Linked DNA regions of Homo sapiens: regions 1, 2 and 4 are each reported to be linked to region 3. Evidence: microRNA targets listed by miRTarBase, many of them from high-throughput screens and not tested one by one. Region 3 holds a microRNA gene; each other region holds the end of a gene's coding sequence.
The links. The annotated mature microRNA hsa-miR-510-3p reads AUUGAAACCUCUAAGAGUGGA and lies in region 3 at 2,506-2,526, opposite strand. An mRNA with a match to its seed (bases 2 to 7 or 8) in the 3' UTR can be bound and repressed. Matches are read on the target gene's strand: a 7mer-m8 pairs with bases 2 to 8, a 7mer-A1 pairs with bases 2 to 7 and ends in A, and an 8mer does both.

Region 1 (6,150 bases), not on the chromosome of region 3:
AAAATCTGTGTGATTCTTTTTTTCTATCAGGTATCAGGTTCATAAATGGGGAAGTTTAAGTTTTTTTTTTGTTTGTTTTTTTAAAAAGGCATTCGCTGAGGCTTATGAGATTGGGGACTAAGGCCTAAAAACTATTTCTTATTTCTTTTAGTATAATAAAGAGAGTCTTTTTATTTTTACTGATACATTGATAAATATTTGCGGGAGACACAATAATAGCTAACTCCCACATTTAGTAAATGCTTCTTTAATTGCAGCGGGACCCTTCTGAGACAGTGTCTGTGAATGATGTTTTGGCCCGAGCTGCAGCCAAGGGTCTGCTGGATGGGATTGAGTTGGGTAAATCATCAAAACGGGAGAAGAAGAAGAAAAAATCAAAAACATCATTGACAAAAGGTGCCACTACTGATAATGGCATCCAAATGAAAATTGCTGAGTTCCTGAATCGAGAAACTAAAGCCAGTGCTAATCTATCAGAGACTGTAACAAAACCACCTCTTCCCCAGAAAAATACTGCTCAAGTGGGGGCTTCCTCACAGACCAGAAAACCCAACAAGCTGGCCCCCCATCCTGCAGTGCCTGCATTTGTGAAGAACACTTGTCCCTCCAGACCGCGTGAACGGCAGACACACTTCTTAAGACCTCGGCCAGAAGACAGAATGGTTGCTCTGAAACCCATCAAGATTGTTCTGCCTCCAGTCTTTATGCCATTTTCAAGTCCCCAAGGGATCAGATCTCGGATGCCAACTCAACATTTGTACTGTCGTTGGGTTGCACCCAAGGCACTTGTGCCCACCTGCCTTCCCACACACTCACTATCCAGAAAAGAGGAAAAGCCTAAAGATGACACACCTTCCTCCCTACTCAGGCCTCCTCGGCGATGGCTTTGATTGTCTTGTGTTTTTTATAGGGGCCAAAGAGCAGTTGATTTTTTTTCAAAGTCTAGTATTTCTCTGAAGATTCTACATCTCTACACAAGATATTCATTCTTTTGGTCACCTAGGGATCTTCTAAGTGTGATATTACTTTCAGAGAATTCAGACAAGTGAGAAACAATAATGTAGGAGTCAGCAAAGCAGAATTCAGAGACTTCAGCCAATCACTGCTGCTCTGAGAGGATCCAGTTAGAGACTCAGTATCAGCGGTCAGAACTTATCTCACTCCTGTGAACTTTCAGGCTGGACTTAAAGCTGCCAAGTTTCCCCTGCAGGGAAGGAAACACTGCCTCCCTTCAGCAGGTAGCTCATTAGAAAGCCAAACAGGCAAACGATCCTGGCCTCTCCCGCCAGCTGACCGCTCTTCAGCATCCATGCGGTTGTAGTCGTGACTTTCTCAGTCACGATCAAGGGTGATTTTTTCTTAAATATCAAGCTGTTCTTTGAACAGGGAATGAACATGAGTTTTTGTAACGTGACTGAAGTTGAGTTTAAGTAGGAAGCGCAGGAAGTTCCCAAGTGCCAGGTGTGTGTAGCTCAGAGTTCCTTTTACAGTGAGGTGTCTCTCACTGGGGGAGCTTCCAGGATCCTGAGCAGACTGGACACAATCATCTCTCCCTTCCTCTATGTCAAGCACTGTTACAAAAGACTGTGAGCAAATTTCCATCTAAATATTAATAATTCTGAAGAAGAGGCAAAACTGTTGAATGCAAGCGATACCTATTGTTGAAGAAACCCACAAATTTCTGATTCTAAGATCAGGGGATACAACAAAATCTACAAGTCATTTCAAATAGCACACAGGAATCAAACTTTGGTAAATCATTTCTGAGGCACAATTAAATATATTGTAGCACTATGTTAATTAATTATATTAAATGTCGATTCATCTTGAATGTATTCTCAATTGCCTACCAAAAATTGGTATGATTATCATTTCTGGGTCTACTGATTTTTCATCATGGCAACAGAAATTGTCATTAAATAGAATTAAGATACAACTATATATCTTATTATTTAAAAACATTCATAGACATATTCATAAAGTTTGAATTTAAAGTTTTATTTTTGCAATTCAGTTGTATAGAAATGTTACATAAATTCCTAAATGCTCAATTCAGGTGGCATGATTTTTAGAATATTATCTTCTTCAAGATGAATACTTAGGTCTACTTCAGCTCTGATATTCTATTTTTACTTTCTTACTTGAAGTGAGAAAAGAGAATGGTGAATTGTATTATAGCGGTAATACATTATTTTTATTTTAGCTTAGATTTACATTTATCAGTAAAACGTGTCAGTGGGCTGGGTGCAGTGGCTCACATCTGTAATCTCAGCAGTTTGGGAGGCTGAGGTGGGCACGCCACTTGAGCACCGGAGTTCCAGACGAGCCTGGACAACATGGCGAAACCCCAAAACCCCATCTCTACAAAAAATACAAAAATTAGCTGGGTGTGGTGGGACACGCCTGTAGTCCCAGCTACTTAGGAGGCTGAGGTACGAGGATCTCTTGAGTCCAGGAGGTGCAGGTTGCAGTGAGCCAATATTGCCCCACTGCACTCCAGCCTGGGAAGCAGAGTGAGACCTTGCCTCAAAAAAAAAAAAAAAAAAAAAAAAGTGTCAATGAAGAAAGGAAACAAGACTTTTTATAGTTGAACCAGGCTTATTGTATTTTAAATCCCTGAAGAAGAATTCTTCATGTTATCACTCTTGTACAGAAAGATATAAAGTGCTCAGCTTATTTTGCTGATTTTGAAAATCAAACACTATCTCCTTGCCCTAAAATTATAGCGTGTGGCTCATCCTCTTATCCCACCCAGATTTCTATCTGGTTGGTTAGGGTAGTCCATGCCTCAAGGAAGGCGGTGCAGCTTAATTTAACATATTGTTCAGTAAAGAATCCCATTGTGTATCATAAGAATCCCTTATCCTTTTCGGGCCCTCCACCATACCAGACTGAAAAGTATTCCATTGTCCAGAAGTAGCTGGTCTTGAGATTTTTATTTTCAAGTGTATTTTCTGTGATGTTGTCTCATTGTTATGGAATAGTTTAGGATAATTTTCTGATCTCTACAGTAGCATGTGAAGTCACAATTTGTTGCCACTTACATTGATTATCTCCTAACATGCATTTGGCACTAAATTATTTTTCTCTTTAGAAGTATATGAAGATTCTGAATTAAACCATTCATTAATTACACTGCAGTTTTCTTCTTTGAGAATCTTCTATGAAGGACAGGATTATTTAAATACTTTGGTAGAGTGAAAAGGGAAAAGAATTTTGGATAAAAGCAATATGAGGCCGGACGTGGTGGCTCACATACTTTGGGAGGTTGGGGCGGGCGGATCACCTGAGGTCAGGAGTTCGAGACCAGCCTGGCCAACGTGGCGAAACCCTGTCTCTACTAAAAATATACAAATTGGCCAGGCGTGGCGGTGCATGCCTGTAATCCCAGCTACTCAGGAGGCTGAGGCGAGAATTGCTTGAACTTGGGAGGTGGAGGTTGTGGTGAGCTGAAATTACACCACTGCACTCCAGAGTAAGACTCCTCTGTCTGAAGAAAAAAAAAAAAAGCAATATGAGGGAATTCTAATGAAGGAGAATATTGATTCCACTGACATGTTTCATTTGGCATTTTACATTCTTGGACTTCTTCTTGAGATAAAAGTGCTGCAAAATTCTAAATAATGAAATTACTAGTATTCAGATACTCCAATAGCAAACACATTTTTAATCTGAAATTATTTACCACCATATAATGCCTGAAACCATAATGAAATTTTGTTACTGACTAGAGAGAAACCACTGTGGAAGTGCAAGATGAACAAAAAGCGGGGACATACTTTAAATTCTGTTTATCTGCCTTCCTGCGCCTAACAGTTAAGCTAAACCAGATTCAACTGATTTCTCTAGTTACCTTTCATTTTGGATTTAGTGTGTGTACACCTCTATTCTTTATTCTTTGATGTCAGGTTCTTAAAGGAAGTGATAAACTTCTTCGTGCTAAAATATCACAATCCTAGCAAGACCGCTTACAAAAGACTCGAGTTGGTGACTAAATAGGCTTCTATGTCCGGAAGGCCAGCTGGCCTTCCTGATCACCAAATAAGTACAGGGTGATTACTCAAAATTTGAAGTTACTTCCTAGTTCTTACCAGGCAGAAATATGTAGTAACTAATCAAAGCAAAATGCTCCATTACTAAAGTGATTTCTAAGAAGTCTGAGGTAAGAATAATTTAAAAATAACTAGAGACACCGAGTTTCTATTTCTATTCCTTGTATATGTGACTAAGATGTCAGATAAATGAGCCGAACGTTTTATGCAGCTAAATTTATTCTCACAACAAATTACATTTAAATGTGTAAAAGTGGTCAACAGGAAAAGGGCATAAAGGAAAACAAAGCGTTCTTTCAGGGGAAGTAAGCTGCTCTGGAGGCCAGGAACTACTGCTTGCGTTGACACGGTGTGAGTGGGTATCTTTGCCCTGAAGCTGAAGTTAAACTTTCTACTGGCCGTGTGGCACACACGTTAGATGTGTATTAGGTTAAGCCTGGCCAACTAGAGAGCGAAGGGGCTTATTAGTTAAATTGTGCTAATATCAGTTAGGAAAATGCTTGTCATGTTGTGGTGAAATCTTGAGGAGTTTGTGTTGCAATGCCTGGGACATGAACGGGCCATACAAACAGAGGAAAGCTCTGGGGCTTCCAGGCAATGGCCTTGTGTCGAGTCATCTTACAAGTGTCCATCTTGAAATCATAAAGTGGATTTAAAAAGAAGTAGCAGTGCCACAGTTTATCACCAAGAACTTATTTTAATGGAAATGGGTCTAATGTCCCTTCATGCAACAAGACAGATGAACAAAAAACAATGGTCCTAATTAGCTATGAGTGATCTTGTATCCAGGTGGAAACAAAGGGCATGTGTACATGTATATATCTCTTAGATGAAATCACACATGTTGTGAAGGGTAGAAAAACGAAGCACCAAGCAGTGCTTTAGTCTGCAAAGGAAAGTTTTTAGCCATAGGCATGTTGGCTAGTCGTTCCCCTTGATGTTGCCAAGGAGCAGATGTATGAGGTGGCAAGTCTGTGTCTATCTAGCTGCTTTTAAAAAATAAAAGGAACTTTAAGCATTTTGCCTTTTCTTCTACATATCCCAATAGAAATGTGACTACAAATCATTACAAAACCACTTTTTAGGCAATGTATAGTTCACTGAGATTACTTAGATCTGGATACACTGGGAGATAATATCCAGGAAAGATAATACATTAACACAATAATGCAGTATATTTCAGTAAAAATAGAATAAATAAAATAAAAATATTTTAAGCTGTATTTAACAGGTTAATTAAAAATATGGTAAGACATAGAAGGCATCGTGAACATGGCTGCCTGTTTACCGAATCACAGATCTAAAGAATGCATAGATAACTGAAGTGTCACTAAGATATCAGGTAAAACATTGGCATCCTTTTACAAACAAATACACACATACTTTCATACATACTTTTTGGCCATGGCAGAAAGTGTCTGAACATACTCTTTAACATAATTTTACAAAATTAATTTGCATTTACTATACAATGCCATTTTCAAAACAAAACGTCTGCAAAGTTTTCAATATGTAAAGGCTATCATTCATCTTAATGCATCCTATAATTGCACATATAAATCAGTTTGCTACTTAAAGCTAGCTCAGAATTCTTGATCTTGAAAACAAGCAAATGTATGCCTTAAAAAATGAAGAGGGAGTTCTGGTAGAGATTTCCAATATAAAAGTGGGTAATTTGTTTAGAATTTTGAAATTTATCACACTAAAATGTTTCACTACAGCGACCGAGATGAAAGATCACTGTAAATGATTTCTGAACAGCTTTTCAAAGGGCACAGCAAGGATTTTCTTAATGCAGTAATTTCTTATGATGGCACTGGTTACTTCAGATCAGTAGTATGTCAATTGGTGAAAAACAGACTGCGTTTCTAAAGTAGCATAGTTTTGTCATAACATTGGGGTGCTAAGACAATTCCGGTCCCCCTGTCCCCCACCCCTCATGAATTCTGAGGGAATGGCAGGTAGAAAAGCCACCCACTCATTCCATCATGATCTCTGGTGGCTAAGTACCATGAGTTAGGAATGTCTACCACAAGTAGCATCTGGAAAATCTCGTAGATGGAACAGGCTGTGAATGTAGAATCCTGCCCTCTACAAC
Region 2 (6,150 bases), not on the chromosome of region 3:
TTTATTCAGTAGAGGTAGCCAGTTAAAGTCAAAGTCTTAACATCTTGCTGCCAGTTTTTATTTGTTGAATTTATTCACCAAATATTAAATACTACATGGGCAGCACAGGACTGGGTAACCCAACAGTGAACCAAGCAGGCAGTTTACCCACCACCAAGAAACTTCTAGTGGAGAAGAGAGAGTGAAATGGAATTAATCAAGCAGTGATAAGTGCTGTAAGGGCATAAAACTAGTTGCAGAGTTTTTGGGTACGTTGGTAAGTTGGTCAGGAAATGAAATGCAGAAGTGAGCCTTGCAGTTGTTACAGGCAGGATGAACCAGAAGCCTGGCAGATTAAAGTAATAGTAACAAAGCCAGTGTGTCTGGGGTATAGTGTTCTGGGAGGAATGCATGAGATTGGAGGGTGTCTGGGGAGCAGATCTTGAAAGCCATGGGATGTGTAATGGGAAGCAATTGTTTATTGTGGCTGAAAAAGACTAGGGTGATACATCTGGTGGAAACTGAAGATGTAAGAGCTAATTTCAGTGAGAGACAATGATGGCTTGGACTAAAGTGGTTGCAGTACATGTTAACTGAGATTATAATCACTAAGGATTCAGAGATAAAAATGTAGTAGCTGTAGTAGCTGTAAATCAAGTATCTTACAGATAATCAGATAATTATTGTAAAATACAACTCTAGTTACATTAGATGTAGAGAGAGCCCAAGAATTTTCAGAGAAGTTGAGACTTAATGAGCATAGTATGGGTTTAACCCTATTATTAATAGGTTGCCTGTTGAGCCGGGGTGGGATTGGGAGCTAGGGGGCTTGATAGTGGTGAAGGAGGTGTTAACGTTTTCACATATATATACACAGATAATATATTTGAAGAGTGAAATCATATTGCTTAAATAATTTGGCTGTAGCAGTTTGACAAGAGAATGCTACCCTAACAATCTTGAACAATATATAGTGTGGCAGTATGACAAGAGGATGCTACCCTAACAGTCTTACACAATACATCCTGTGAATGGAAGGATGAAATATTTTGGAGGAAGCTAGGTACAGAAAAGATGAATATGATGATGTATATTTTTCGTATAGTAAACCTTTACATAGTAGGAATTGTATTTCTTAATGAAATTTATGTTTTTATTTTAAAAGGTATTTGAAATACCTTACCAAGAAATACCTTAAGAAGAACAATCTTCGTGATTGGCTTCGAGTGGTTGCATCTGACAAGGAGACCTACGAACTTCGTTACTTCCAGATTAGTCAAGATGAAGATGAATCAGAGTCGGAGGACTAGGCAAAGGCTCCCCTTACAGGGCTTTGCTTATTAATAAAATAAATGAAGTATACATGAGAAATACCAAGAAATTGGCTTTTAGTTTATCAGTGAATAAAAAATATTATACTCTTGAACTTTTGTCTCATTTTTTTGAGTATGCTGTTTATATGATTTTGATTTCCCTCTGATAACTATCAACAGTATTTAAATAGCTTATAGCTGGTATAATTTTTTCCCACGATTTCCAAAATCTTTTATGTACTCAGGTAAAAGTAGCGTTATATAGGAAATCTTTTTTTTAGACACTCTCGTTCTGTCACCCAGGCTGGAGTGCAGTGACTCAGCTTCCTAAATAGCTGGAATTACAGGTGTGAGCCACCATGCCCGGCTAATTTTTTGTACTTTTAGTAGAGTAGGGTTTGGCCATGTTGGCCAGGCTGGTTTCAAACTCCTGACCTCAAGTGATCTACCCACCTCGGCTTCCCAAAGTGCTGATTATAGCTGTGAACCACCATGCCCGGCCAGGAAATCTTACTGTAGAACAATTTTTTATATAGCTGTATAAAATGTATATGATTGTCTTGACAGTCTCAAATACTGTTTTTAATAGCTTGTAAATGTAATCTCAAGTGCTTAGAACAGTTCTTACATATAAGTTGCTCTGTAGTTTGCTCTTATAGTTAGCCCAAAGACTCTGGGTGTGAGGCCTGCTGTAAACCAATGTTAAACTGCTTATTAGAAAGCCCTAACCACCTGCTTTGTAGGCACCAGAAACTCAAAACCAAATCTCAACTCAGCTACAGAATCTACTGTGGTCCTTGTCTGAAAAAATTAGTTCACTCGGTTGGAATCTTGTCTCAGAGCATCCTCATCTCTTTCTCAAAAGCCCCTACCCCAACACCGGCGTGTTGGTTGTCTATTGAAACTTACAAGTGGATGGACCCTTTCTCCCGAATAAACTGGCCTTTGAAAGCTCTAATCGAAATGGTTTGGCAAAATCCATACTGCAGGAGATTAGGGAGGACAAGAATGATGTGCCTTTTTGTACTGCTGAGCCTGATGGTGGTGCCACTACTTCAGGTACTTAGATGAGTCTTGATGCTAATAGAATTGTGTCGCCAAACATATCTGGACAGTTACAACCTAATCTATGCATTAATTGGTTTGGGAATTGCTTGAAATTATTGTTTAATTCAATGTTTTAATTCGTTTTCCTAAAAATTTAAGTGCCCCCATCATCGTGCAATACCTCAGTGCAGCAACTCCTTGATTCTTGGATGACTGAACTTCCTAACTTGGCTCTGCCCCATTGTTCCCATTTTTCATGTTTTTCACAAATAGTTAACCAGGTACCTACTACTGTGCACCGCTGCAGAGCATTGAGGATGTATGTGATGAGTAAAAACACCCAGCCTGCTCTGCTGTGTTAGTATTATGACGGAAACTGATCAAATCACATGTGAACAAATTTACTGCTACAAAAGGGAGGGCTTAATAAAAGGAATTTCATCTGGGAAGGCAAATGAAGTTTGTGAGCACTTTATAGAACAGGGAAGGTAGGCAGTATCTGGGAAGGGGAAAGTAGGGCATTCCAGACAGAGGGAGGAGCACTTCTGAAGTTCTCAGGGCATTGGGAGTCTGGTTGGCCAGAGTACATTCTGGAATAGATGTGATCATGAGGATAATCTGGAAAAGTAGAAGCTAGCCAATGCAGGACTGAAGTCCATGTTTTCATCTTGAGGGCAATGGGAGCTTGTAATGAAAGTAACGTGACCTGATGAGATATGCATTTTGAAAAAGATCAGACTGTATTGTGGAGAATGGATTTGTTGTTGTTTTGTTTTTTGAGATGGAGTCTCACTTCGTTGCCCAGGCTGGAGTTCAGTGGCATGATCATGGCTCACTGCAACCTCCACCTCCTAGGCTCAAGTGATAATCCTGCCTCAGTCTCCCGAGTAGCTGGGATTACAGGTGCCTATCCCACGCCCAGCTAACTTTTGTATTTTTTTTAGTAGAGATGAGATTTCACCATGTTGGCTAGGCTGGTCTTGAAATCCTGACCTCAAGTGATCCACCTGTCTCGGCCTCCCAAAGTGCTGGGATTACAGGTGTGAGCCACCGCACCAGACCTGTTCTCAGTATTTTACATGAATTGAATCATTTATCATCATAACATTCTTTTGAGATAAGTATTAATATCCACATTGGCAGCTAGGGAAACTGAGGAACATAGAGTTAAGTAATTCGTCCAAAGTCACACAGTAAGTTATGCAACCCAAAGTTGAGAAAGAGGGTAGCTTTGGGAAATCGGACAGGGACAATGCAAATTTTAAGGTTAAATTGCATTTAGGAAGTAATGAACAGTGAGGATGGGTGAAATTGCCTGACAGAAATGTCATGATCTGATCTAGTTTAGATTACAGTGAAGTATTTCGTTAGTCTATGACAAGAAGGAATGAGAATGCAGAGAATCTCTTAATCAGACTATGCATTTTGAGAATGTGACTTCACAGTCGTGAAGCTGACTTTATTCTGAAGGGCTGAATATTCTGAAAGAGAGCAAATGAGAATCAAGTATTGACAAACACCAATTGCTTCCTCCATTCTTTTCCTAGAGTGATCTTTCAAAAACACATCTGATATTCACATGTTTAAAATTCTTGAAAGCTAATTTAGCATTTAATATTTATTATGTGCCAGGGACTGGGTATATTATGTCAAGTAAGATATTCATGCCTTTAAGGTGTTGGGAGGTTTGTTAAATAATAAAATTTATTGAGGGCTACTGCAGGCCAGGTACTGTTTTGGATACTGAAGTAAACAAAATGGAAACTCCTGCCTTCATGAAGATTACAATCCAGCGGAGGAAGACAGACAATAAAATAAATAAAGTGTATGTTACATGGTGGTAAATGCTATGAAGAAAAATAAAGGAAATAGGGAATGTAGGAAGGAAGGTGTGTTACATTTATAAGTAGGATGAGGGAACATCCTCACTATTCCCCTCCTCACTTTACTGAGAAAGGCTCATTTGAGTAAAGACCTAAAGGAGATACTGAATCTAACCAAGTAGATGTCTTGGGGAGAAGTACTTCAGGCATAAAAAATAGCAAGTGCAAAGGCCCGAAGGCACGAGCACCCCTGGTATAATCAAGGAACAACAAGGAGGCCTCTATGACCTGAGCTGAATGAATGGTGGAGAGTAGAGATTAGAGAAGTAAAAAGAGGTATACATGGGGTGTGGAGAGTGGGATGATGGTATATGAGTTATCGATTACACTAAAGTGTAGCAACTTGAAAGAAATATATCTCACATTTCCTGAGGCTCAGGAATTGGAGCAGCTTATCTGCATAGCTCTGGTTCAGGGTTTCATGAGGTGGCAATCAAGCTGTGAGCCTGCACTGAAGTCATGGGAGAGTTACCAAACTACTGCCTGTTTTTGTAAATAAGATTTTCTGGGAACACGTTAATTTTCATGTTGTGTATGATGGAAAAGTTGAGTAGTTGCAATATAAACCACATGGCCTGCAAAGCTCGAACTATTTACCATCCAACCCTTTAAAAAAAGTGGCTTGACTGAAGCTGGAAGATCAGCCTCCATGCACACTGACAGAGCGGTTGGCAGGAGAATTCAGTTCGCCGGAATTCTTGCTATGTGGCCTCTGTATGACACTGCTGATAACATGACAGCTGGTTTCCCCCAGAGCAAGTGATCCGAGGAGGAAGAAAGAAACCAAGATGGAAGCCACAGTGTCTATAACCGAATCTCAGAAGTAACATGTCATCACCTTTTCTTTATTTTACTGATCACATAGACCAGTCTTGGAAGAGAATAACAAATACCAGGAGGTGGGGATCATTTTGGGGGGCCATCTTGGGGGCTGGCTACCACTGAGGGGATATCAAGTAGGGAGAGTTCTGTAGGCTATTACAAGGGCATCAGCTGTTTTTCTGGGTACATATAAAGTACTGGGGAGCTACAGATAGACTTGAGCAGAGAAATGTCATGATCTGATATATTTTAGATTACAGTGAAGTATTTCGTTAGTCTATGACAAGAAGGAATGAGAATGCAGAGAATCTCTTAATCTCAATCAGACTATCCATTTTGAGAATGTGACTTCACAGTCGTGAAGCTGACTTTATTCTGAAGGGCTAAGAGATTCTTAGATTTTCTTGCCTTGCAGTCTCTGCAAGAGCTGGGCAAATTTTTGTTTTCTTTTTAACTTTTTATGGTTTTTATTTATTTTTAACTTTTTATTATGAAACATTTCAATTACATATGTAAGTAGAAAAAATGTGTTTAATCTATATTCCTTCTACTCCCACATCCCCAGATTATTTTGAAGCAAGTTCCCAACATTTTATCATTTCTTCTATAAACTTATGCTTATATCTCTAAATGTAGTGTCTAAAAGATAAGGACTCTTTAAACATAACTGCCATACCATTATCACACCTATAACAAACAAATTAACAATAATTTCCTGTATTACCCAATGCCCACTCAGTGCTTAAATTTCCCCAAATATCTGGCAATTTTTAGCTTTGTACAAAGTACAGTTGTAATAAGGTCCACAGTTGCAATTAAATGTCTCTTAAACCTCCTTTAAAAGTTTGCCCCCTGCAGCCTGGGCGACAGCGCAAGACTGTCTCAAAAAAAAAAAAAAAAAAAAAAAAGTTTGCCCTCACTCTATTTCTCTCTACTCCCCCATCCCAATTTCTTTGTTTATCACACTAGGTCATTTGTCCTGTAGAATTTTCTCAATTCAGATTTTCATAATTCCCCTCCCCATAGTGTCATTTAATGTGGTCCTCTGTCCACTGTATTTCCTAAAAATTGATGGTCGGATCTAGAAGTTTGATCAATATCAGATT
Region 3 (6,150 bases):
CACTGTTGTTATTCTTCCCCGACCCCTGACATGGCTCTTTCAAGATCCTATTTGGGTTGAACAGTGGCCTTTAAAGGGAGAGAAATCACAAACAGCCCATGAATTAGTTGAAGAACAATTAAAAGCCAGCCATATAGAACCGTCAAACGGCCCTTGGAATCACTCATTTTCATCATTCCCAAAAGGTCTGCTAGATGGAAACTTTTGCATGACTTACCTGCCATCAATGCTAATTTGCAACCTATGGGGCCCCTTCAACAGGGGATCCCTTCCCCCATGGTGATTCCTCAAGGTTGGCCCATATTGACTCAAAAGACTGTTTTATTGACTTTAAAGACTGCTTTTACACTATTCCCCTTGCAAAACAGGACAGAGAAAAATTTGCATTTACAATACCAGCTATCATTAATGAAAGGCCAGCTCAGAGGCATGTCCCCTCCATCAACACGTGTTAACCCTAGAGGACTAGAACCTAATCAGTTATGGCAAACAGACGTTACGCACATCCCTGAATTTGGAAAACTAAAATATGTACATATATCCATTGATACCAATTCCCACCTAATTAGCACTCATGCTCTTCCCGGAGAGTTTGCCCAGTATGTCATTAAACATATTCTCTTAAGTTTTGCGTTTATGGGGCGGCCCACAAAAATTAAAACTACTAATGGTCCAGCTTACACCAGCTCACAATTTCACCAATTTTGTCACACATGGATGTCCAATATGTGACATCCACAGGCATCCCGTACAAATCCCAAGGACAAGTCATAGTAGAACATGCCCATTCCACCCTTAAAAATATGCTCAGAAAACAAGGGGGAATATGAGTAAGGATGCTGCAACACTACTAGCATAAGCCTTATTTACCCTTAATTTTTTTAATTTAGATAAATTTCAATCAGCCATAGAAAAGCATTTTGCAAAAGCCCCTCAAGACATAAAACCCATGGTTTTATGGAAAGAAGTTAATAGTAATCTATGGTGTGGTCCAAATGATTTGCTGACCTGGGGAAGAGAATATGCTTGTGTTCACACGCCCTCAGGTCCTCTTTGTATTCCAGTGTGACAGACACATCAAACCATACCATGGCGTGGCTAAGACCCAAGCTGGTATCAAAAATAAAGGAAACGACGCTGCAGGACCCGCAGCCCCAGACGATGTGGCTTCCTCCGATGACACAGGCCCCAGACATTACCTGGGGGAAGCTGAAGAAGACAACTCAGGAGGCCGAGTGAATCCTTCTCTGGACACAGACACCATCACTCCAGATAATCTGTTCCTTGCTATGCTCTCTATTGTACCTTGCAACTCTCATAGGGTATTCACCTTTCTTATTCTCTCACTTTGCCTGCAACTCATACCTGCTACATTCTATTGGGCCCATCTTCTAAGATCTGCCTTTCTTCCAACCTGTTACCTTGGCAGACACCCCCTTCCCATCCTCTAATAATGTAACTGCTTAGCTGGGAGGGGTTGACATGCCCCCAGTGGGGTTCCTTAATAATGGCACACATTGAACTGAGGTGCCAAGTAACACTACATATCTCTCCTTGATTGGAAAAGAATAATAGTGACTATACTAATGTTTGACTTATGTTATTTACTAATTCTAGGATGCAAAGCCGGAACACGAGCTGTAACCGCTGCGCCTGTCAAATCTGTCACTGCACACATCTGTACTATTCAATCAACAAAACCCGATGCTAAAAACAGAAAAGGGGGAGACGCGGGAGATCGGTCAGAGTGGTAGGAGAAGGTATAGGGAAAGGAACAGACCTTCTGAAAGGCGGGAAGGCTCTGGATAGCTTCAGGGATGAATAAGCTGAAGGCAGCTGTTCTCTTACCCTGAGGCAGAGGGCAAGGGGTAGGTAAGGAAGTATAGGGGAATTTGGCATAAACAGGCTTGTTTACTTACATTGTCCGGAAACCGACTTTGATCATCAGGGCAGGAGACTGCTCCCTGAAAGGGGGAATAATAATGTTAATTACCCACAGATTGTGTTGGCTCCAGGCTTTCATTATTTTGTCTGTACTGAATAAAAGCAAGCAGCTCCAGCTGTTCGAGACTGCTCACTCTTCAGCCATTAGTGCTGGGCATTCCTGTAGCTGCTCTTACACTGCATGCCTGTGGCTGAGTACTCCTTTCATCCGTTGCTTGGCCAGGGTCTGTGGGATGGACCCCGCAGGTAAGGGTTATCAAAAAAAAAAAAAATTCACAGGCAGATAGGAACACCATGACCATACTAAAAGGCTTTTTTCCCATTTTAGTCTTGCAAGTTTGTAAAGAAGGATATGAAGCCCCTAAGAAATCAGTGAAACACTTTTTCCCAAAACCTTTATTTCCTATGTCTTGTCTTCAGAAGTTTATCTAGAAACTCCCCAGCTAGTTTAGTATTGAGGAGGGTACCAGATGGACTATCTATGTGCTAAGAAAAGCATACCACTGCATGCAACTAAATATCTGCAATATCATTGCATATGTAGTACATGTCATGTGTTACTCCACTCTTAGAGGTTTCAATCACACCTAATTACATGTGATTGCCACTCTCCTGAGTAGGACACCACACACATACACAGCATTCCTGAAAATGGGAGCACAGCCTAAATACTTAATCACACACTTTTCAAACAACCTCTCAAATGTTTTCAGTCTGTAAGTGGCCGTTGGCATTTATGTAAATGATTCCTGAAGAACCTACATCATTTTTTATTCACTCATTCCCCCTTGAGTGTTGTCCACTCATGGTTTGGAGTTTTCACATGGCAGTTTTCAGGACTAAGAACCTTCCTGCTAGGCTCTCCTGCTAACGGGAAAAATCTCATTCGATGCCTTATTCTATTTCTTTTCCCATTGTTTTATATAAAGTATTAATGAGTAGATTGCATTCCCCAGATTCAGTAGCTACCCAGACACTACACTCTATCTCACCAATCTGTGCCTATCATCCAAAGATCTGAGTTCTTCTACCTGAGTTCCTTACTACAACTCCTCACTACAGAATAAGCAAGGACATCACACAGGATCCTGGAAGCAAAGAAGAGAGAATAATCAGTGAGTGGTAAGATGGAGAGAGTAGAATTTCTTTTATCCTCATCAAATTTTGAAGTGAAAAAAAAAATCCCATTTTACTTACCAGGAGTGATCTACAAAACAGAAATTGTGCTAGGCACCCAGACACTCTTAGAGATTTTTCAGTTTCTGGGTTTTCTTCGTCTTTTCTGGGAGCAAGGTTCTTTTTAGCATGTGTTTGCATTTTTCCAATCTGAGACACATGCTACTAGGTGACTGTGTTTCCCTGCAAAACTAAAATTAGCACACACAAAAATATGGACACAATTTTGGTGACTGGATTTCAGAGACTGAGAACTGAGAATTTAAAGTGACTGTGGCTTACAAAATTACCTGTTCCCCTATCTCCTAATCAAGAGCAACAATATACTTGTGGGTTTAAGAAGCCTCCAGAATTTCTCATCCACTCCACAAACCCAGTTTAGTGTTTCAGAGGCTAAATACTAGGCATGTGAGGTTAGAGGTCAGGGGCCTGCTACTATAGCCATTCTTCATCACAGGGTTTAGGCTCTATACCAGGTGCAGCCGGCGGAGATAATTGAGTACGTAATACTCCTCATCTCAGCTTAATCATCAGGGGGAGCTTCCACTTTGGGTGAGGCAAACCAGAACACTAGAATCCACTGCTATCACTCATCACCCTGGTTGTAAAGCAGGGGTGTCAGTGTACAAGAAGCAGGACACTGCCTTATTCTCAGCTTGGGGCAACTGCTCAGGGATTTGTCCATTGAGAGAGGCTAGCCCTAAGAGAAAAAGCATTAAAGCTTTCCTTCTCAAAAGAAAATGACTTCAGTTGTAACAGAAGACAAGAAAGGTCTCACAAATAATGTAGACTGTGGTGCCAAGTAATTAGGATGGAACTGGAATCAGGAAACAGACAGCTAATAAGAGCCTTTCTGGTAGGAGAATAGCCTTTAGAGACCTGCCCCAAAAATTATCTGCAAAGTATTTGGATAAGACTCTAAAGCAATTTTTGCCCATGGTATTCTCAAAAGCTACAAAATAATCCACCTGCAAACACTGAAGCTTATTACCTGTGTGTGATACCGCAGAGGCAGGCAGCTTAACAGAAAGAGCAGCAAAAGAACAAAGAACTCTACTAAAATCACGACAGTTTAGAGTGACTGTGTACATATCCAAAGTTATACCTTGCAAGGAACAACATTAGGTTTTCACAATAAAAAGAATATAGATTTTACTAAAACAGCACAGCCAAGTAAATCAACAAATAAAAAAATCAGACAACAACAATCCCCAGAAGCAAGATCTGCATCCAAAACTTCTATAATATATTAATAAAATATCCAGTTCTCAACTGGACATTCTCAGACATACAGAGAAAATAAAAATATAACACACAGGACAAAAGTAGATTACAGAAAATGCTGGCAACAGAGCCTAATGTTATACTTAACAACAACCTTAAAGCATCCACTGTAAGTATTTTCAAAACACTAAACAAATGGTGCTTGGAAGAGTAAAGGCAGCTATGTTGACAATGCCTCATCAAAAGAGTCTATCAATAAAGAGGTAGAAATATTTAAAGAAAAGGAATTTATGGAGTATAAAAGTAAAATAATTGAAGTGAAAAATTCACTAGAAGGACTCAGGAGAAAAAAGAATCAGTGAACTTTAAGATACCTTGAAAGTGATAATTCTATAAAAATAAAAGAATAAAATGAGTGAAGAAAATGAACAGTGCCTCAGAGAAAGGCAGAACACCAGCATGCACATCAAAATACGCATATTAAGGTAGCAGAAGTGAAAGATAGAAAGGAGCAAAAAAGTATTTTTTAAAAATGGCTGTGAATATCTAAATTTGATGAAAAACATTTTTTATTATACCTAAGAAGTGCAAAACACTACAGGTAGCATAAACAAAAGAAATCCAAGCTGAGAGACATATCTACTTTTTGGTGACAAAAAAAGAGAATATTGAAATCTACTAGAAAAAATAAACTTAATGCATACAAGGGATCCTCTACAATATATTTCGCTGACTTTTCATTAGAAACCATAGAGGCCGGAAGACACTGGAATAACATTTATAGTGCTAAAAGGAAAACAGTCAACCAAGAATCACGTACCTAAATTTAGACACTCTAAGATATGGCATTAAAATGTAAACCATAAAATAACAAATGGTGAATCATCCTTTATGAAAATACAAAAAAAAAAAAGTTTGCTCTGTACAACACATGGTTAAGGGAATGCAAAAGTAAACCACAGACTAAGAAAAAATATTTGAAAATCACATATCTGGGCCGGGGACGGTGGCTCATGCCTGTAATCCCAGCACGTTGGGAAGCCAAGGCAGGCGGATCATGAGGTCAGGAGATTGAGACCATCCTGGCCAACATGGTGAAACCCTGTCTCTACTAAAAATACAAAAAATTAGCTGGGCATGGTGGCACACGCCTGTAATCCCAGCTAGTCAGGAGGCTGAGGCAGGAGACTCACTTGAACCAGGGAGTCAGAGGCTGCAGTGAGCCGAGATCGTGCCACTGCACTCCAGCCTGGTGACAGAGTGAGACTCCGTCTCAAAAAAAAACAGAAAAAAAGAAAGAAAGAAAAAAAATCACATATCTGACAAATAAATTGAATTCAGAATGCATAAAAACTCTCCCAACTCAATAAATATGGGGAAAATACCTTAACAGACAATTCAACAAAGCAGATATATGAATGGCAAATAAGTATATGAAGAGATGCTTAACATTTCGTCAACAAAGAGATGCAAGCTGAAACTATATTGACAAAACACACGTATTAGAATAGCCTATAAAAATAAAAACACTCAAAAACCATGCTCATACCAAGTGCAGATAAGTATTTGGGTAAGTGGATCACTGATACATTGTTCATGACAGTACAACATAGTAATTAATGCCATTCTTGAAGAGTTTTTTTCTATTTCTCTTAAATTTAACTTAGAGTTAACATACTTAACATAAATCCCACTTTGAGCTATTAACACAAAATAAAACTTGTGTTTGCACATATATCTGTATGCAAACATATACCCTAGCATTATTCATAATCACTAACAATTGGAAACAACCCAGATGTCCTT
Region 4 (6,150 bases), not on the chromosome of region 3:
ATAGACACTTCTTTGTAAAATTTTTCCAAGAGCTTATTAGTTCTTGACACCGATAAATTGTTTTCCATGGTTGCAGTGTTACAAGGTACACAGAGATTTTGACTTTTCATAATTACTACTATAGAAAAGAAGAATGTTTTGTGGGGCATGTAGTTATAAGGTTTCAGTTCTCTGATAGCTTTATTAAAAAGGGTTCTTTGAGCTTGGGACAAATATGTCATTTCCTTCCCCTCATCTCTCTTCTGTGGTCCAGCTGTCTCTAACAATGCTTGACTATTCTCAGGTGTCTCCAGTAATGCAAAAGGCAAGTATGAGTAGTGAGGGCCAGGTGTGCTTTTTCTATGAATTTAGCATTTCCTCCAAACCTGTCACCATTTGAACTCTGGCAAAATAAAATCCCTCAAATGGACTCAAGCCCTTTTGAGCTTGTCTTTGACTAGAAAGTGAAACTGAACCTATATTATCATCTTTCTTCACTAGTGGGAGCAAGTTCCCACTAGCAAGTGGGAGTGAGTTCCACTCAGCCAGGCCTCAGGATCTCCTTAAATGTATTCCTCCAGAGAAAAGATAGTTTTCAGGTTCACTCATTGGTTCAGGTTGGCCACTCCTTTTCTCTTTGGAAGGAACATTGAAGAATCTGTAGTAGGGGATAATTGCACTGCAATTTTAATTTTGCTACATACTGAAAAAACGTAGGCACGGCTACTTACGTAAACCATTTCCGCTTTCCTTGAAACAAATCTTTCTGCCTAATATAATAAACACTTAATTGACTAAAGCAGAACAGCAGTGTATTTTACTTTGTAAAAAATGGAGTAATAATTTTTCAGTGACATTTGGAGGTACGGATAATCATATAAATTTAAAAACCTGTCTTTACAAAAATACTGCTTGTGCATGTAATAGAACACTTCTTTTGTATGGGTTTTTGGTGGTTTTTTTGTTTTTTTCTTTTTTTTTTTAAGCTTAGAATGTCAAAGAAGAGCCCAATAAATTGAAACTCATTTGAGGTCAGTTACAATATTTGATTGTTTTTATTTTTTGATTCTTAACCCAGATCCCTCCTTTGAAAAGCACAGATAGAATCATTAAGTTCCAGGAAACCTTTCATGGTGCTCTTAGTTTCTACATTGTATGATTGCTTTGGACATTTGATAGTTTTTATTTGCATACTATTTTTTAATGAGATTTTTCAATAGTATTTCTCAAATTTTAGCCATTCAGCTGAAGTAAATCTTATGTGACTGCCTCTATTCAAATTGCCACTATATAAAAGAAACTGAGGTACCAGAGGGTAACATTTTCACCAAAAAAAAAAGAAAAAAAAATGTTTTGTTTTCTTTCAGTGAGTTACACCAATCATCCCAGGAAAAAGAATTATAATTGAAAGGAATGACACTATTGTAAGAAAGAATTTACCACATTATTTTCTATGTGGTTTTAATTCATACTTTACTGAGCAATTAGAAAAGGCTGATTCTAGATACCCTAATCAAACCAACGAATAGACATCATCTGTACACTCACTCACACTAGAGTGTGAAATCACGCTATTCATTTAAAGCCCAAGAATTTAAGCAAGTATTAATTTAGCAATACCTGAGACGTTTTTCAAGAAGTATAATGGTAGCTGTCTTTACTTGTATTTCTGGAGCAAAAAGGTATAACTGCCTTATACCTTTTTGTTTGTTCTTAATGCTTAGTCAACATTATAAACATTTAGGCCCATTTAACAAGTTTATTCGCTGAAATTACTGCCTTTGAATAACATTAATACAAATGTAGACTACTTTGAGCATAGGAGACCTTAGATATGAGATCAAAGTGGAAAAAAAGCTCCTGTGGTCCCTAGATAAGCATTTACTTCTGAGTTTTTCTTCACTTTTAAATGCAGAATAAAAATTTTATAAAAGATAATTTTAGAAATGTATCAATTAAATTTGGCTCTCACTGTACTTCAACTCCAGATTTGATTTTAGTATACAATCATTGGTTTGACCGTTGTCTATAACAGGGTCATACAGTTGGTATTCGATAAATATATCACAGAGTCCTTTTAAGAATCTCCCAACTCAGATTATCCTAGTGCATATAGAATGTTCAAAAACTGATTGATTGATTGATAGGTTCTGTAGGAATTCCAGTTTTTGAACATTCTATATGCACTAGGATAATCTGAGTTGGGAGATTCAATCAATCAATCAGTTTGAGTCTGGAACAGTACCAGAATGAATGAGAAGTACTATTATGTTCTTTTTGATAAGTGGGGAAAAATTTAAAAGCACAAATACGCATTTCTTATGAATTATCACAACGAATGTCAGTAATAGTTTATGAATATAAATAATGACTCAGTGAATTTACTCACTAAAAGATACTAAAGGAATATATTTAGTAGTTCACAATATCTATAATAGTTAGCAGTCCAAGTAGATGTTTGAGTGACATTCAGTCTCTTAAGAAATATTTACATCACAGATCTCAAAATGAAGGCAAGTCAGGCAGCTCTCAAGACAGAATTGCAGCTATGTGAGAAGGGGAAAGAAATAAATAGTTAAAATTTTAACTATACATATTCTGTTTTCAGCCTGTGAATGTAGTAGTTTCTAAAAGCAATGAAGATTTCCCTGAATATCACTTTTGTGCCTCAAGCTAGTTCTTATTCCTCTGTTAATGTCATTGGTTGCTCACCCCTCCAGAGGTATTTTCATATAAGAGTCAGAGTTTCAGGAAAAAGGTCTTATTTGTTTAAACCAAATCTGTTTTTCTCCAAGTGACATATAGTTTTTAAGAATATGCACACAATCCCTCATCAATCTCTGAACCACCAAAAAAAAAAAAAAAAGGAGTGCTGATTATACGTGGGAAAGATTATTTTCTTTTGTATTTAATACAGTGAATGTGTAGTCAGCATTACCATTGAACTAAACATCTGAAATTTGATACAGTGAAACAAATTAGTCATCTGTTAATGGTTACTATCCACTAGATACATCTGAGGTTGTAGAATATCAGGCTTATAGACATTTGAGTACACATTGTCAGCACAGAACATAAAAGTCTCACATAAGGTATAATTGAAAGTTATTTCAAACAGTTATCTCATCAATAAACTTTCTGTAGTAACATCATGTTCATGGAACATTATGTTTTTAGCAACAAACAGTGATGGTATGCAGACAGAAGCATGTCATTTTAAACATGATACATTAAATAAAGCATGTTGAGGTCAAAGCCTTTCTGTAGAAAGGGAATTTAATTGACATTCAAGCATAGTATATAAACAGATCAAAATAGTTCTATTATAAGAAATAGTATTTAACAACTTATCTCTAAAATAAAAATACTTTAAAAATCAGCTTCAATGAGATTACATTTATTGTTAAAGAATCTTCCTTTAGAGTGAAATATACATTTCTTTTAGCTTTTCTATAGTTTTTCCAGTATAACCCCCACTTTTACCCCATCCAAGTTTATTATTAATAAAGTAGTGCAAAGCATTGTCTGCTGCAATTTCAACTGAGTGTAGTCCCCTACCAAGTCAGGGAAGTAAGACATTCTCAACCAACCAAATTATTTTTTCTCCAGAGTTATGCTCCCTTAGTATACCAGGGAGTGAGATATAAAAACTACTTTAAGAGTCTTGGGAATGCAATTTTTAAGTATAGATTCTATGATAATAGTGAAACATTGATAAAGGCAACCACCACCCCCAAGCAGTTTATTTTATTTTACAAAACAGGTTTTCATGCATAATCAAGAATGATTTTTTTTAATAAATGAATGTAGTGAAACACTGGCATATCACTTAGCACACTGAATTCTCTACATTAAAATTCACACTAATAACAAAATCATAGTATGAATTAAAGCATTTCAGTAATCTAATGAGAAAGCAGGTTTTTTTTTTCTCTGAGAGCACTTGAGTATTTATTAAAATATTTTTAGATGCACAGATACAATCTGACACCAAAAGCGATATGGATATAGTTTCCTAGTATTTTTGATAACTGTACTTACTGGGTTGCTAATTTGCTAACTAACTGTATAAATTAAAGTAGTGGTAGGTATAAAAATTCAGATAGGCAATCGTTTATAAACTGGCAGTATTTATGTTATGTAGTCCTGTAGAGATTTTAAGGTTTTAGATGGAATGATTGATTGAAATTCTATAAAGAAAACTTTGTAACCTTCTGAGTATTGATTCTCTTGAGGGAGTGAATGTACCTTCACTTATTAGCTTAAAATTAGCCTAAGTCATACCTAAGTAATTTGCACAGGAGTGAATGTCGGGATCTAAAGCCAGAATATATGTTAAATTGAAATGTATCCATTCCATTATTCAGGCTTTGGAATTTCCCTCCCTTTTGAAATGTATAAAACATAGAAAAGTGTAATGGATTACTTTTCAGATAAAAAATAGTCGCATTAAAAAAAAACTTTAAAATCAAATCGACATTTACAATTGATGTAGATTTAATCAGAGCACAGGTGAGTATTTAATCCACTAGTAATTAGATAAGAATATATCTTCCAGTGTTATCATTCTTATATTTGTTCTTTCAGTGTGTTATATTATTATCCACAGCTAACAAGGTTTTGACACAGCAGTAGCAAAACCTTTATCAAGTTGAGTCTGTACAATAGAAGTATATATTCAAAGACATATGCCTTTGTACACTATTTACAGATTCTCTCGATCATGATAAAAAGGCAAAATAAATAAAAAGCAGAAAGAAAGGAAATGCTGCTGAGGCTGAGGGCTTTTTCTTTTATCTTCCCAAACAGATGCTGGTCTCCTCAGTGCTGGGAGCTGGCTAGCCAAGATTGTTTTTCTTTCTTTTATATGGGCTATGAGAAGGATCTGGTTTCAGTTCTTGGTATTGCACCTGTTTAAACAGAGTTCAGAGGAAGACTGGTCAGGTGGCCACTTTCTGGCAAAGAAAGGAACAGCAAAGGAATGAGAGACGGTGCTTGGGGGAAGAAAGTGCTCACTCTAGAAGCTGTATGGGATCTGCAGCTGAGATGCAGAAAGCAATAGAATGACAGAGCAAGAATAAGGGAAATCCTGTTGGAAAGTACATGGGGCCCTGATGTGAACTTTAGTAATGGTATTCACTGTCTATAACACATTACATTAAAAGTAAAACCATCTACATCAATTTTTTAAAGGGCTCGATAATGGTTTTTTACAATTTATCGTGTGTTTGCTTAATACAGTCTTAATCTCCATCCAGCCCACTGTCATGTCATAGCAAATGAAAAAGGTATCACTGTAACCCAGCTTCAGGATTTAAAAAAAAAAAAACAAACTTCTTTTATTTTGAAAACAGCTGATGGTTAATGGGCATTAACCTCAAAGGATTTTTGAGATATGCTCCACTCTTCAAAAAGCAGTCAGCTTTCCTCTCCTCATTGATCTCCAAAATATACTTCTTCAAAACTTACTTGTAACTCTTGCAAATTCTGGAAAGACTTTTTTTTCTTAAATGTCCACTGGCATATTTTGCTTTCATCATCTAATATTCCTGGTTTCCTCCCCTCAGGTCATACTCCCTGTCACAAACTCCAGCTGAACTAACTTGGAGGAGGATCTTCCCTGACAGCTCTGGTAGGTTCTTTATGCAACTGCTCTTTCTCCCATTCTCTGTAAGTGCTTCTTGGATAACACCCCAGGTGGGCTAAATTTCTGACTGGTAAAATCTGCTACACAGGCTTTATTAATTTTTACTCAGCTCTTCTAAAGCCTTTGAAATTAGAAGGATATAAAAGCTAAAACCCCATGCCACACTACATTAAAATAATAGCAATAATAATAACGAAACCTACATACCACTTGTACATCTGAAGGGACTCTGGAAAGGAAGTCAAGTAGTTCATTGTTATCAATTGCATATGGACTCCGAAGCTTTTTTGTAAATTTATTGATGCCTGAAACAAAGTTGGAGTTAAACAAAGCACATTTCTGACAAAAGTGTTGTAGTAATTTGAAGATCTAACTTGTATGCCTTGACTCAATGAACCAATACACCCAGTTTTTTCCCCCTCTTCCTCTTTTTCTCCTTCATTTCTTCCTCCTTTCCAGCTCAACTGCTTTTTTTACTTGTACCTTAGTAGCTTCTTCCAAGCAGGAAAGGCTTTCTATGTGGG

Region 1: the mRNA of NSUN7 is a reported target of hsa-miR-510-3p. Seed matches in the 3' UTR shown: 7mer-A1 at 934-940 and 7mer-A1 at 1,723-1,729.
Region 2: miRTarBase lists RPL22L1 as a target of hsa-miR-510-3p. Seed matches in the 3' UTR shown: 8mer at 1,712-1,719.
Region 4: the mRNA of MCTP1 is a reported target of hsa-miR-510-3p. Seed matches in the 3' UTR shown: 7mer-A1 at 4,367-4,373 and 7mer-A1 at 1,066-1,072.

The regions. Positions count from the first base shown.
Region 1 is chr4:40,808,050-40,814,199 of GRCh38, forward strand. NSUN7 (NOP2/Sun RNA methyltransferase family member 7) reads left to right here. Exons shown (of 12, transcript NM_024677.6): 12 at 258-3,135. The coding sequence ends at 890. APBB2 (amyloid beta precursor protein binding family B member 2) reads right to left here. Exons shown (of 18, transcript NM_004307.2): 18 at 1,978-6,150. Among named protein-coding and RNA genes, the nearest start is that of NSUN7, 61 kb to the left of the region's middle. RefSeq lists an enhancer at 1-117.
Region 2 is chr3:170,861,519-170,867,668 of GRCh38, reverse strand. RPL22L1 (ribosomal protein L22 like 1) reads left to right here. Exons shown (of 4, transcript NM_001099645.2): 4 at 1,145-2,794. The coding sequence ends at 1,289. Among named protein-coding and RNA genes, the nearest start is that of RPL22L1, 5.6 kb to the left of the region's middle.
Region 3 is chrX:147,269,837-147,275,986 of GRCh38, forward strand. It overlaps MIR510 (microRNA 510), which reads right to left and starts at 2,572; the gene lies at 2,499-2,572. It overlaps LOC105373347 (periphilin-1), which reads left to right. Exons shown (of 4, transcript XR_005647084.2): 4 at 1,047-2,059.
Region 4 is chr5:94,702,679-94,708,828 of GRCh38, forward strand. MCTP1 (multiple C2 and transmembrane domain containing 1) reads right to left here. Exons shown (of 23, transcript NM_024717.7): 22 at 5,834-5,931; 23 at 1,012-4,889. The coding sequence ends at 4,818. Among named protein-coding and RNA genes, the nearest start is that of SLF1, 87 kb to the left of the region's middle. RefSeq lists an enhancer at 470-539.